Regions from separate parts of the Homo sapiens genome. Here region 1 is linked to region 2. The links come from fine-mapping of genetic effects on gene expression. Tissue or cell type: prefrontal cortex. Region 2 holds a variant in brackets; the other region holds the start of a gene. All regions are shown on one strand. Distances are between the middles of the regions.

What was found.
Region 1: it holds the start of LINC02714, and the variant in region 2 is fine-mapped to the expression of LINC02714 in prefrontal cortex (GTEx, PIP above 0.99). The same link has a PIP of 0.9 or more in anterior cingulate cortex and cerebral cortex.

The regions. Positions count from the first base shown.
Region 1 is chr11:134,734,450-134,737,361 of GRCh38, forward strand. LINC02714 (long intergenic non-protein coding RNA 2714) reads left to right here and starts at 1,496. Exons shown (of 2, transcript NR_147836.1): 1 at 1,496-2,093.
Region 2 is chr11:134,730,800-134,733,711 of GRCh38, forward strand. No RefSeq gene overlaps it. Among named protein-coding and RNA genes, the nearest start is that of LINC02714, 3.7 kb to the right of the region's middle. The variant G/A (reference allele first, on the strand shown) is at 1,270.

The DNA of each region.
Region 1 (2,912 bases), 3.6 kb after region 2:
CAGAGTGTGAATGCAGGAACTAAACCCTTCTGCAAAGACATGGGATGGTTTTATTGAAAAATAACAGTGCATTTTTAATGTTTTGCTTCTATATTTTATAACAACTCCTTGGTAGCTGACGCCCGCTCCCTTTCCAATGTTCTGTGCCTTTCCTCCTTCCTCTGCTCCCTCAGATGGAACGGAGCTGGCTGCCTCTGTTCCAAGAAGCCTGCGGCTGAGTGCGGGCTTGACATGAGATATTTATCATCTCAGGATGTCTTCGCTCAGATCGCTGGCTCTCCACCCCCAGACTTCTTTATCTTATTTTGCTAAACAAGATGAGTTTCTGTCATTGCTGGAAGTAATTGCCTTGTTTTTTAATATATATCAAGGCCCAGGTTAACAACTGGACAATGCAATGCATTTGTTATTCCCTCTCTCTCCTGTTTATTCTAGTGTGAAATTGTTTTCCAGGTAGTGATTAATTCTGCCAAAGCTTCCTGCCCTTGCTGGGTAATTTGCTGTATTTGGGAAGAAGATGCTAACTGCGCGGCTCTGCCATCAGAGGTGTCGTTACTGTTTTGTCAAACACTAGCTCCTCCATTGTCTTCTGCCAATCAGCCAAGCCTGTGGTCCTTTATTCATTTCCTGTTTCTGAGTTTTCTGTGGGGAGGACTGAAGCTGAGTCTTCGGGGGAGACTGTGTCAGGAGGCTGGGGTGGGCTGGAGAGGGCCCCCCAGCGGTGGCTCCAAAGCATCTCCGCAGCGATGGAGAACTGGGGTTCGTGGGCAGAGTGGTGAGCGACGGAGAACTGGGGTTCGTGGGCAGAGTGGTGAGCGACGGAGAACTGGGGTTCGTGGGCAGAGTGGTGAGCGACGCAGAGCTGGGGTTCATGGGCAGAGTGGTGAGCGACGGAGAACTGGGGTTCGTGGGCAGAGTGGTGAGCGACGGAGAGCTGGGGTTCATGGGCAGAGTGGTGAGCGACGGAGAACTGGGGTTCGTGGGCAGAGTGGTGAGCGACGGAGAGCTGGGGTTCGTGGGCAGAGTGGTGAGCGACGCAGAGCTGGGGTTCGTGGGCAGAGTGGTGAGCGACGGAGAACTGGGGTTCGTGAGCAGAGTGGTGAGCGACGGAGAGCTGGGGTTCATGGGCAGAGTGGTGAGCGACGGAGAACTGGGGTTCGTGGGCAGAGTGGTGAGCGACGGAGAACTGGGGTTCGTGGGCAGAGTGGTGAGCGACGGAGAACTGGGGTTCGTGGGCAGAGTGGTGAGTGACGGAGAACTGGGGTTCGTGAGCAGAGTGGTGAGCGACGCAGAGCTGGGGTTCATGGGCAGAGTGGTGAGCGACGGAGAACTGGGGTTCGTGGGCAGAGTGGTGAGCGACGCAGAGCTGGGGTTCGTGGGCAGAGTGGTGAGCGACGGAGAACTGGGGTTCGTGGGCAGAGTGGTGAGCGACGCAGAGCTGGGGTTCATGGGCAGAGTGGTGAGCGACGGAGAACTGGGGTTCGTGGGCAGAGTGGTGAGCGACGGAGAACTGGGGTTCGTGGGCAGAGTGGTTGGCTGCCCCACTGTCAGCCTGTTCTGAAAGTAGGAATGACCCTCAGCTGAGCTGAGATGTTGCTGGTGGAGACTCTAAGACTGTGGATTCTGACTCCCTGGGCTCAGGAAGGACGGTGCTGGGAACAAGGTGCAGACAAGGCACGACGAAGCTGGAGTGCCTCATACCACCCCCATGAAAGCGACGAAGGACTCCCAGAACCATTCCTGGGGGCCCGTGGGAACGAGGACTTTGGGGGCACAAGGACGAGCTGAAGAAGTCTTCCTGATTGTGGTTGTCAGAGGGAGGACATGGCATCGTGGTGGGCCAGAGTATCGGCCTCAACACCACCCACTTTTCAGGCTGCAGTCTCCACCGTGGCCGCTGTGTGCATTGGAGGGCACTTGGCAGCATCCCCAGCCTCCCCACTAGAAAACCAGATGCCAGGAGCATATGCGCCCCTCCTCAAGGTGCAACCACCAGAAACGACGCCAGACATTGCCAAATGTCCCTTGAGGGTGGGGACAAATGCCCCTCATCCCCCTTGAGGACTGCAGCTGGAACTCAATGAAGAGCAGCGGTAAGTGTCTCTTGAAGGGTCTGTCCACGGCCATCCGGGTGGCTTCATGGTACACGGGAGCCCATGTGGGATCCTGAAGTCAGAGTCCAGGACTGGGCCTTGGCTCAGTTATCAGCTGCAAGGTCTTGGAGAAAATCATTAACGGAGCTGCACAGTTTTCTGGGGAGTGGAAAGGCTGTGGAAACGGCAGTGAGCCATGGAATCACAGGATAAACAAGAAAAAGGGCACTTCCCCCTCTCCCTCCCTCCCCTGTGTGGACTCCAGCAGAAGGCTCCTGGGAATGTGTCCTCTGTCCTCAGTGCTCAGTTACATGAGCGGCACCTCCACTCTCCCCAGATGGTGTCCTGTTCTGTGCTGAGCTCTGCACTGAGAGTTCTGCCCTGAGGTCATCCCTTCACATCCCAGGCTGGTGCTGGCATGGGCCTGTCCCTGGGCTCTGCCTGGCTCCTGTACCTGCCCCTCCACGAGAGGCCACTCCATCTCCTCCCCAGGCCCCTCCACCTGGCACAGACACCCTCTGCCCCTGTGAGACTTTGCCCCTCTCTGCCTGCGTCCCTGTCACCACTCCTCCATCAGCACAACCACAGCACCTGTGGGATCTCCTGGGAGGGACAGGAGGCACAGGCAGTCATCACCTGTGGGATCTCCTGGGAGGGACAGGAGGCACAGGCGGTCATCACCTGTGGGATCTCCTGGGAGGGACAGGAGGCACAGGCGGTCATCACCTGTGGGATCTCCTGGGAGGGACAGGAGGCACAGGCGGTCATCACCTGTGGGATCTCCTGGGAGGGACAGGAGGCACAGGCGGTCATCACCTG
Region 2 (2,912 bases):
CCTGAGGGTAGCAGACACATGGGAGGGAAGGTATGAAATCCAAATATGGATTCTTATGAGGAATTTCAGGTATTCTGGCAGGCTGACAGCTGAAATATTTAATTGAAAAAATATTTCCCAGCTTCCTCAATTCACAGCACAGAGTTCTGCCCTCTCAGCCTAAACAAGAGGCAGGCCCTCCTGGTGGCTGCCCCTCTCCTGAATGCCTCACAGGAGCCTGTCTCAGTCTGGGGCTGTGCTGAGCTACCTCTTAGCAGTTTCTTTAGTCATTTTAAGGTAGGGTTTCCTGGGTCAGCCAGAGACGTGCATATCTAAAAGTCTCTTATGTCTGCATGGCTAAAGGCTCATGATTTGTAAGGCTAATGAGGTTTATAGAACATTTAACAGAGTTTTTTGAAAATTTGGAAACAATGCAGCCGTTATCTTTGAGAGCATCCTTGCCCTTGAGTTTCCCAGCTGAGATCTCCTCCCTGGGGTCTGGCTTCTCTCATCTCTTTGAATTGCACACAGGCTTCCAGTGGACAGCACCTGCTGCTCTGCCAGCCCCAGCCAAACCTCTCCTTGCTCAGTTTTATCCTGTTCCTAGGAGGAAACTGGTCTTTCCTTGGCCTTAATAAAAGCCCAAATCCATGCACTTCACAAGACCAGTCCCCAGCTGGCCCTTTTCCATGGTTTAGAATCTTTGGCCAAAAGTTGACTGTGTTTGTCATCTCCTGCTGGACTGTCGGCTCTGGGGCTAGAAAAGCCTGGAGAGATGGGTAAGAGCCAGGACAAAGAAACAGAAGACTTTTCTTGCAAAGAATAAAAGGTATGTATTCATTTATTTAATAACCATTGATGATGTGCCTGCATGGTGCTGCACATACCTTGGGGAGGAGGGGCAGAGGCTTTGCGCCTAGACGACTCAGCATGTAGCTTAACAAAGAAATAACCTGGAGAACAATAGCCCACAGTGTGGGGCTCCGGCATGCTGAGCACTGGAGCTAAAGGAGCCTGGCAGGCTTCAGAAGCCGAGCTCTGAGTGCCTCTGCCTCAGACCCGTTCCCTGCTGACGTGAGTCACAGAAGCCAGAATCCTCTTCCCCATGGCAGCCATGGAAGCAAGGACCTCCTCTCCCACAAAGCGAGCCCTGAAACCTAGTGAGAAAGAAAATAAAGTTTCAATCTGAGGAACATGAGAAATTATCAGGCCTTGGGAGGTGTTAAAATGAGAGAGGAGTCATGCCGCAGGCACCTTGAGGTAAGTAATCATTTCAAAGCCACCTGGTGT[G/A]TGGACTCAGGACTGAGTGTTGCCACCAGTAGCTATAAATTAATCTAACAAGAATGGCCATCCTACACTGGACACCATAACTCACATCCTGTCATTCAACAATATATAACCAATAACTAATCAATGTCATTTCTGCAAGCCAATTAGAATTCCTGACCAACAACTTGTGTAATCACCCCCTTTCCTGATTCATCCTTTTTTCTTTAAAAATTTGAGCCTCTCCTTTGTTCCCTGAGCACTTCACAGTGTGTCCCGGACTGTGAAGTGCTCAACCTTGGCCCAAATAAACTCTCTGCATTAAATTTGCCACAGTTTCCTTCTTTACGTAGACAATAGACAAGTGTAAACCAAAAGGTATCTGAGACAGGTCCGCATCCACTTAGAGGTTTGTTTTGTCCAACCACCTCGGGTACACATGCCATGGGCCATGACACAGCCTCAGAAGAACGTGTGCCCAAGGTGGTCTGGTGATAGCTTGGTTTTCTACATTTTGGGGAGACAGAAGTTCCAGGCCAAGATATAAATCAATACTTGTATGATGTACATTGGCAAGCCCAGAGAGGCAGGACAGCTCGAAGAAGGGGGCTTCCAGGTCAAGGGGGGTTCAAAGATGTGCTGATTGGTAGCTGTTTGAAAGAGTTAAGTCCTGCTTGGAGAGTGAAACTCAGCATAAAGAAATGCTTAAGTTTACATAAGGGGGTTGTGGAAGACAAGGTTCTTGTCTTATAGTTGAAGCCTCCAGGTAGCAGGCTTCAGAGAGAATAGATGTGGAAGGTCTCTTATCACACCTCAAAAGGTGTCAGACTCTCTGGAAAGACCTAGTAAGGGAAGGAGACTCTCTATAGAATGTAGATTTACCCCACAAGAGACAGCTTTGCAGAACCGCTTCAACATCTTCGACATATGTCAAATAAATGTATTTTGGGATAAAATACTTTGACTTCTTCCAGGGCCTGCTATGTGTCATATGATGCTATACCAGAGTCAGGCTAGAATTTGGAATCTCATGGCTACAAAGAGTCTGCTTGTCTGTCTTCAGATCTCTGTTTTTGTGTTAGTGCCGATCAGTTGTGTCTAAACTCCAAAGGGAAGAGGGGATAGCGAGGCGTGTCTGATCCCCTCTTCTGGTTACATCCTGAACTAGCTTTTCAGGTTTCTTGGAGGTCCGCTAAGCCAAGAGGAGGGTCTATACAGTCGGTGGGGTCTCAGAATTTTATTTTTGGTTACAAAGTTCACTCTCTCCCTTCTCCCTTGAGAGCCCTCATTCCAGAGGGGTCCTGCCCATACCCAGGAGGCCGAAATGCTATGCAGAAAAGCCAAGAAGAAGCCACACAGACAGGCCTTGGAGGCCTCCGTGTAGCACCACAGACCATCCCCCTTTGTCCAAGCACATTTCTCCACAGTGTCCATTCTTCATGGAACCTAAGGATACAAACAGATGGTTCCCCTGCAGCTTCAGATCTTCATTTCTCAAGGCACCTGTATTATATGAAACTTTAAGTAAATCTGTTATGCTTTTCTCTCGTCAGCCTGTCTTCTGTTGTAGGAGTGTCAGCTGTGAGCCTTAGGATGAGTGAGTAAAGGCATCACACCCTTCTGCCACTACATCTGCATAGACACGTTTTCTTTGGATACGTCCACAA